Linked DNA regions of Homo sapiens: region 1 is linked to region 2. The links come from fine-mapping of genetic effects on gene expression. A gene starts in region 2. The other region holds a variant in brackets. All regions are shown on one strand. Distances are from middle to middle. Region 1 overlaps TXNRD1 (thioredoxin reductase 1). Region 2 holds the start of TXNRD1 (thioredoxin reductase 1).

What was found. PIP is the estimated chance that this variant, and not a neighbour inherited with it, causes the effect.
Region 1: its variant is the best candidate, but not a certain one, in a credible set for the expression of TXNRD1 in transverse colon (CEDAR, PIP 0.78).

Annotation. Positions count from the first base shown.
Region 1 is chr12:104,264,654-104,268,990 of GRCh38, reverse strand. The region is part of intron 3 of TXNRD1 (thioredoxin reductase 1); the gene reads right to left. All of the region lies in intron 1 of TXNRD1-AS1 (TXNRD1 antisense RNA 1), which reads left to right. It also overlaps the pseudogene RPL18AP3. Among named protein-coding and RNA genes, the nearest start is that of TXNRD1-AS1, 14 kb to the left of the region's middle. RefSeq lists an enhancer at 2,476-2,645. The variant G/TG (reference allele first, on the strand shown) is at 2,467.
Region 2 is chr12:104,212,962-104,217,344 of GRCh38, reverse strand. TXNRD1 (thioredoxin reductase 1) reads right to left here and starts at 1,566. Exons shown (of 17, transcript NM_001093771.3): 1 at 1,452-1,566. The coding sequence starts at 1,542. RefSeq lists enhancers at 558-1,173, 1,174-1,790 and a silencer at 1,614-1,703.

The DNA of each region.
Region 1 (4,337 bases), 52 kb before region 2:
AGAGGTTGCAGTGAGTTGAGATAGTGCCTGGGCAAAAAGAGTGAGACTCTATCTCAAAAAAAAAAAAAAAAAAGAAATGACAACAACGGATTTATAATATGACATAAATTTAATTGATAAGCAGTGGCAGGGTTTGAGAGGATTGGTTCCAGTTTTGAAAGAAGCTCTACTGTACGCCAGGTGCGGTGGCTCACGACTGTAATCCCATCACTTTGAGAGGCCAAGGCGGGTGGATTACATGAGGTCAGGAGTTCGAGACCAGCCTGGCCAATGTGGTGAAACTCCGTCTCTACTAAAAATACAAAATTAGCCAGGCGTGGTAGTGCAGCCTGTAGTCTCAGCTACTCAGGAGGCTGAGGCAGGATAATTGCTTGAACCTGGGAGGCAGAGTTTGCAGTGAGCCGAGATCGTGCCACTGTACTCCAGCCTGGGGACAGAGTGATACTCTCTTTCTTTCTTTTTTTTTGAGACGGAGTCTCGCTCTGTCACCCAGGCTAGAGTGCAGTGGCGCGATCTCAGCTCTCTGCAAGCTCAGCCTCTCGGGTTCACGCCACTCTCCTGCCTCACCCTCCGGAGTAGCTGGGACTACAGGCGCCTGCCACCATGCCCGGCTAATATGGGTGGGTTTTTTTTTTGTATTTTTAGTAGAGACGGGGTTTTACCATGTTAGCCAGGATGGTCTCCATCTCCTGACCTCGTGATCAGCCCACCTCAGCCTCCCAAAGTGCTGGGATTACAGGCGTGAGCCACCGCACCCAGCCAGTGATACTCCATTTCAAAAAATAAAAATAAAAAATAAAAGAAAGAAAGAGAGAGACAGAGAGAAAGAGGAAGGGGCCGGGTCCAAGTGGCTCACACCTGTAATCCCAGCACTTTGGGAGGCCAAGGTAGGTAGGTGGATTACCTGAGGTCAGGAGTTTGAGACCAGCCTGGACAACATGATGAAACCCTGTCTCTACTAAAAATATAAAAAATTAGCCTGGCGTGGTGGCAGGTGCCTGTAATCCCAGCTACTCAGGAGGCTGAGGCAGGAGAATTGTTTGAACCCGGGAGATGGAGGTTGCAGTGAGCCCAGATTACGCCATTGCACTCCAGCCAGGGCAACAAGAGCAAAACTCAGTCTCAAAAAAAAAAAGAGAGAGAGGAAGGAAGGAGGGAAGGAGGGAGGGAGGGAAGGAAGGAAGGAAGGAAAGAAGGAAGGAAGGAGGGAAGGGAAGGAAAGGGAAGGGAGGGAGGAAGGAAGGAAGGAAGAAAGGAAAGAAAGAAAGAGAAAGAAAGAAAGAAAGAGAGAAAGAAAGAAAGAAAGAAAGAAAGAAAGAAAGAAAGAAAGAAAGAAAGAAAGATACCATCACATCTAGGAACACCTATCATGATATCAACACCATGAACATTATACATAAGACAGGTGGGGCAGGTCATGGAAGGTTCTACGGGATAGTCTCAGAAAAAAGAAAGAAAGGAAAGGAAAGGAAAGAAGGAAAGGAAGAAGTAAGGCAGGCTGGGCATGGTGGCTCATGAGACTCCAGCTCTACAGAAAATACAAAAATTAGCTGGGTATGGTGGCACATACCTGTACTCCCATCTACTCGGGAGGCTGAGGTGGGAGGATTGCATGAAGCCAGGAGTTCAAGGCTGCAGTGAGCCAAGATCATACCACTGCACTATAGCCTGGGCAATAGAGCAAGACAGACAGACAGACAGAAAGAGGAAAGAAAGAAAGAAAGAAAGAAAGAAAGAAAGAAAGAAAGAGAAAAGAAAATAAAGAGCTATATATAAAGGTTTCTTCCTATTATTATTAATTATTATATTATTTTTTTTTTTTTTTGAGAGGGAGTCTCACTCTGTTGCCCAGGCTAGAGTGCAGTGGCGCGATCTCGGCTCACTGCAAGTTCTGCCTCCCGGGTTCAGGCCATTCTCCTGCCTCAGCCTCCCAAGTAGCTGGACTACAGGTGCCCGCCACCAGGCCTGGCTAATTTGTTGTATTTTTATTTTTTATTTTTATTTTATTTTATTTTATTTATTTATTTTTGAGACGGAGTCTCGCTCTGTCGCCTGGGCTGGAGTGCAGTGGCTCGATCTTGGCTTATTGCAAGCTCCGCCTCCCGGGTTCACACCATTCTCCTGCCTCAACCTCCCGAGTTGCTGGGACTACAGGTGCCCGCCAACACGCCCGGCTAATTTTTTGTGTTTTTAGTAGAGACGGGGTTTCACCCTGTTAGCCAGATGGTCTTGATCTCCTGACCTCGTGATCCGCTCGCCTCGGCCTCCCAAAGTGCTAGGAGTACAGGCGTGAGCCACCGCGCCCGGCCCTGTTGTATTTTTAGTAGAGACAGGGTTTCACCGTGTTAGCCAGGATGGTCTTGATCTCCTGACCTTGTGATCCGCTTGCCTCGGCCTCACAAAGTGCTGGGATTACAGTCGTGAGCCGCCACGCCCAGCCAACTAATTTTTTTTTTTTTTTTTTTT[G/TG]AGATGAATTCTCGCTCTGTCACCAGACTGGAGTGCAGTGGCGTGATCTCAACTCACTGCAACCTCCACCTCCCGGGTTCAAGCGATTCTCCTACCTCAGCCTCCCTAGTAGGTAGGACTACAAGCATGCGTCACCATGCCCAGCTAATTTTTGTATTCTTAGTAGAGACAGGGTTTTACCATGTTGGCCAGGATGGTCTCGATCTCCCCACCTCGTGATCCACTCACCTTAGCCTCCCAAAGTACTGGGATTACAGGCGTAAGCCACCGCACCGGGGCTCTTCCTAGTATTATTATCCCATGAGGAAAATGAACAGGCAATTCAGATAATGAAATACAACACAGTGACTACAATTTAGATAGTCCCAGCTACTTGGAAGGCTAAGGTGGGAGGACCACCTGAGCCCAGCAAGGTACACATAGGAAATACAACATACAGGAAAAAATATTGTGCCTCATTAATAATCAAAGTGATACAAATTAAGATAAAGAAATCTGTTTTTACCTCTCCAATAGGCAAATAATGATTTTTAAAAACCTATTATTATTTCTTTTCTTTTTTTTTTTTTAAGATTTTGTGTGGGACTGGCTCAGTTTGTCCAGCCAGATCACTTTTTTTTTTTTTTTTTTTCCACCGGGGCGTTCCTGAGTTTATTTGGGGCACACCCGGACGAGGGCCCTGCACCTAGAAGAAGGTGTTGGGCCTCTTGGTGGTGAAGCGTGGCTTGTGCTGACGGCGCAGGACCCGGTGGGGCAGCGGGAACTTGATCTTGGAGTCGTGGAACTGCTTGACAGCCGGCCGGCGGCACTTGCTGGCCGCGATCTCCTCCACCTTCATGATCTGAATGGAGTGGGCTCGGGCGCGGTGCCGGGCACCCATGTCTCGGTAGCACTGGGTGACAGCGCCTGCGGTGGTCAGGTCCCGGTATTCCCGGTACATGTTGTGGGTGCCGCTCCGGGAGTCATAGCGCAGCCAGATCCTGAAGTTCTTCACCCGCAGGGGGGACTTCTCAAACACCTGCCCACAGTAGACAATCTCCCCTGAAGACTTCTTCATCTTCTTTAACTGAGATACAAAGTACCAGAAGCGGGACTTGGCGACGACATGATTAGGCGCAAAGATTCGCATGCGGTAGAGGGGCGGCGTGTGGCATTTGGGGGTGGGCAGGCAGCGACCCACTACCTTGTACTCTCGTAGCGTGCCCGAGGCCTTCATGGCGTGCTCTCCGCGTTCGCCGCCACCCGCAAAAGGAAGTTTTTTTTTTTTTTTTTTTAAGACGGAGTCTCACTCTGTCACCAGGCTGGAGTGCAGTGGTGTGATCTCAGCTCACTGCAACCTCCACCTCCCGGGTTCAAGCGATTCTCCTGCCTCAGCCTCCCAAGTAGTTGGGACTACAGGCGCATGCCACCACGCCCAGCTAATTTTTGTATTTTTAGTAGAGACGGGGTTTCACCATGTTGGCCAGGCTAGTATTGATCTCTTGACCTCATGATCTGCCTGCCTCAGCCTCCCAAAACACTGGAATTACAGGCAGGAGCCACTGCACCTGGCCCAAAACCTATTATTATTTCTTACTACTAAGTACAGGGAACTCTTTGAGCTTATGAAGTTATTAATTAGTACACACCATTTAAAGGGCTCTAGAACCTTAGAATTGTTCATACTCTGACCCATAAATCCATTCCAGTAATCTATCCTAAGAAAATAATTCTAAATACAGCAAAAACTTCACGTACAAAGAAAAACATTTCTAACCTATTATTCCACAATAGCAAAAAATTGGCAATAGACTGTCCAAATATAGTAGAATGGCTAAGTAAATACATGGACTATTTTGTAGTCATTGAGAAAATTAAGAACTTATATAACA
Region 2 (4,383 bases):
GAGCGAAACTAAAAAAAAAAAAAAAACAAAATTGTTAAGATGGTAAATTTTTTTTTTTTAACCACACACAAAAAGAATGTAGCTAAAGAAAAACAGTAAATAAATGGAAGGACATAGATATCAAGAAGATCCTGAGGATGGCACATGAAACGTCAATTTGGGATGCACCTGCTCAAACTCCTTCATTGTACTAATGGCCACAAATTAGCTGCCTGACCTGGACCTTGCCTGACCTTGCTCCTACCCTGTTCCTTTATTCTTCCCTTCCCCTAATCCAAGTCCTTAACTCCAGCAGGATATACAGGCCTCCCTATCTCTAGCATGGTCTCACCGGCTGCTTCCCCTAACAAGAATGTTCTCCCTTCAGACACCTCTACCAAATCCTACCTCATCTATGGGAGCTGCCATCCCCACTTGGCTGTTTTTACCACTCCTTTTAGCCCTTCACCATATGCTGCCTTGTAACTAAACTGTAAGCCTTTGAAAGAGGCAGATCCTACAGCATTTAATAATTCTAGCCATTGGGCAAGGCACTTTTTGGAGCCTCACTTTCTCAAGCCTATAAAAAAGGTGGAGGCGGCCATATGACTATGACCAGGGCTTTTGAGTCAGATGGCCTCAACTGGTATCCCAGCTCTTCCACTTACTAGTTGTGTGCTTTGGGTAAGTTTTATAACCTCTTTGCTTCTCAGTTTCTTCATCTGTATAATGGGGTTTATGATAAATCTCTCAGTATGGCTGGAAACATGAACCAAGATTATTACCCATGTCTAGTGCTTCCAAAGGCCCCTCTCATGTCAGTGCTTAGTAACCACTAGCCATTATTGGCATTATCCGGACAATGGAGAAGAGACTGGGAGCTTTCTCTTCTGGAAGAACAAGTGAAAGGATAAAGCGGGATGATGGTGGGAGAAATGTGCCCAAAATTCAAGGGGATGGAGAAAGGGGGCCGGGAAGGCGTGTCGGACAAGATTCTCGATGGAGGAGGATGCTGGGAGTGGGCCGGGGGCTTCTGGAGAGGTGAAGGGGCACCCCCGGACTCGGCTGTCGGTTTGGTCGCTTCCCCCGTAACCTTTCATTGGAAACACGGTGCTTGTAGGAAGAGGACGCCCTAACGGGCCCTGAGCGAAATCAGGCGGGTCGCTGCCGAGATCTCGGTTCGGTTTCCGACAGGTTTCCGGGCAGGTCCTCGCGGCGGGCCCGCTCCTCCTTCCACCTCCCACCTCTCTCACAGCCAGCGGGCGGGGCAGCCCTCGGCCGGCCGCCGGCCTCCGTCTCCCGGGGTGACCTGGGGGAGCGTTTCTGGGGTCTCCAGCGTGGCGCGCGGTCAGTCACTGACTCCAGTGAGGGGCTTCAAGGCCAGGGCTCCGGGGCACTTTATCCCCAACCCCGGCCGGAAGGCCCGCTTCGGCCCGTCGACCTGGGGACCAGGCCTTCGCCCTCGGTCGTACCTGACCTACGGCGGCCATCGCCGTTCTTGCCTTTCGTCTGCAGCTCCGTTGGGGCGGCCGCCGCCACTGCCTTGCCCTCGGCGCAGCCCATGTCGCACAAGGCCCTGTGGGAACTGACGGAGCCGAAGGACGCCTGGCGGAGGCCGCGAGCCCCCTGCCGGCCGCGGGTCGGAGAACGCGGTGGGCGGGGCGCTCGGTGACAACAGCGAAGTCATAGCCCGTGTATCTTCTTCAAGGTCGTGAATTTTTTTTTTTTAACAGGAAAGAACGGTCGCTAAAGGTAAATTGGAAAATGCAGAAATGGAAAGGAGAAAAGAGCGCACCACCCAAAATCCTTATCCTTCGGCTGGGCGCGGTGGCTTACACCTGTGCACTTTGGGAGGCCGAGGTGGGAGGATTGATCGCTTGAGCCCAGGAGTTTGAGACCATCCTGGGCAATGTAGAGAAACCCTGTTTCTACAAAAAATAATTTTAAAAAATTTATCCTTCACACAAACTACTTTTGCTGTGTTTACTATTTCTTTCCAGTTTTTCCCCTCTATGCATAGTTTTGCATCCAGCATTTCACTTAATACTAGTATTTTCCATACTATCACATAGTCTTGTAAGCCTCCCAGATAACCACCTGGCTTCCACTGTCACTTCAGTCTTTGCCTCTTTGACCGTAGATGAAGCATACACTGAACATCGTAGTTTCTTTTTAATACACTTTATTTTTTAGAGCAGTCTTTTTTTTTTTTTTTTTTTGAGACGGAGTCTCACTCTGTCACCCAGGCTGGAGTGCAGTGGCGCGATCTCAGCCCACTGCAACCTCTGCCTCCCAAGTTCAAGCGATTCTCCTGCCTCAGCCTCCCGAGTAGCTGGGACTACAGGCGTGTGCCACCATGCCCAGCTAATTTTTTGTATTTTTAGTAGAGACGGGGTTTCACCGTGTTAGGCAGGATGGTCTCGATCTCCTGACCTTGTGATCCGCCCGCCTCGGCCTCCCAAAGTGCTGGGATTACAGGCGTCAGCCACTGCGCCTGGCCTTAGAGCAGTCTTAAGTTCACAGCAAAAAGACCATCCTATTTGAACAGAAATCTGATCACGCCCCCCTCAACTCTACCCCCACCCTTTACTTTACTCTATTTTATTTTTACCAGCACTGAGAGCCTTCTAACTTACCCTATATTCTCTGTCACCTGCTCCCACTCCCTCCGCCAGCCTCCCCACGACACCCTGCCCATGTAAACGCTGCCAAAATAGAACCTTTGCATTTTTTTCTTGTATCTTGGCCTTCAGCTTGGGCCAGGTGGCCTCCCCCACCTCTTGAAGGAAAGCAGGGAAGAAGCGGGAAAATATTAATTTGAATAATTATAATAATGTAATAGTCCATCCACTAGAGCTACTGGACGATTACATAGCCTATTATTAGATGTTTAGTTTGTTTTTTATTTTTAAAAATTATGAATAAGGCTGCAGGGAACATCTTTGTGTTTATAGTTTTAAGGCTGTCATTACACGTTGCCAAAATTGCTTTTTTGGAACTGTGGTTCCCATTTGAACTCCTACTAGTAATGAATGAGAGTGATTTTTTTTAACACCAAACCACATTGCGGCACATCAGGTGCACAGTCACTGTTCTCTATCAGTGCAGTGCTCTGTTTTTCCTTCTTTCAATTAACTAACATATGGTAAGCATCCAACTTATGCCTGGCTTTGTTTAGGGTTACAAGGTGACTCAAATTCCCTGGTCTCAAGGAACTTCCACCCCAGCTGAGATTTAGTGAACTTGTCTGGTCACCAGATGCGTGGCAATTGTGTGGGCCCTTTGTTTTCATTTGGGTTTGTGGACAAGCTTATATCCTGCTTCTCTGGAGAGCAGCCCAGAGTCAAAATGCTCTTGGAAAACACTGGGTGTTTATTTGCTTAAACACAGAAAACAAATAAAACTGAACCAAAGGCTTTTTTTTTTTTTTTTTTTGGAGATGGAGTCTCGCTCTGTTGCCCAGACTGGAGTGCAGTGGCACGATCTCGGCTCACTGCAAGCTCCGCCTCCCGGGTTCACGCTATTCTTCTGCCTCAGCCTCCCTAGTAGCTGGGACTACAGGCGTCCACCACCACGCTAATTTTTTTTGGTATTTTTAGTAGAGACGGGGTTTCACCATGTTAGCCAGGATGTTCTCAATCTCCTGACCTTGTGATCCACCCACCTCAGCCTCCCAAAGTGCTGGGATTACAGGCATGAGCCACCGTGCCCGGCCACCAAAGGCTTTTAATAACAGACATTGCACAAAGCTAAAGTAAATCTCTCTCTCTCTCTTTCTTTTTTTTTTTTTTTTTTTGAGATGGAGTTTTGCTCTTGTTGCCCAAGCTAGAGTGCAATGGCACAATCTTGGCTCACTGCAACCTCCACCTCCCAGGTTCAAGTGATTCTCCTGCCTCAGCCTCCCAAGTAGCTGGGATTACAGGCATCAGCCACCATGCCTGCCTAATTTTTTGTATTTAGTAGAAAAAGGGTATCACCATGTTGGTCAATCTGGTATCAAACTCCTGACCTCAGGTGATCCACCTGCATCAGTCTCCCAAAGTGCTCGTATTACAAGTGTGAGCCACCGTGCCCGGCCCTAAAGTAAATCCTAATAACAACTTCATCCAAGTGTTTGGTGTCTGTAGTAACTAATGCAACTAAGCCAGGACCCTTTAAAAGCAAAGTTCCCTCCCTCTGCGAGCCAGGTCTACAGTTCCTTGGTTCCACTGGAATGACTGTTTCAGAGATTTTTTTTTTAAATATGCTATTCAATTTATGTTAAAATTACCATTTTATCATCAAAATTCCAACTGTGGCTGTCATGTATTTTTCTCTATTTAGTACATGTATTTAACTAAGATGATGGCTTTCCTGTTATTTTAAACACCTAGGCAAAAGTATCTGAGAGTCATGTGCCTACCT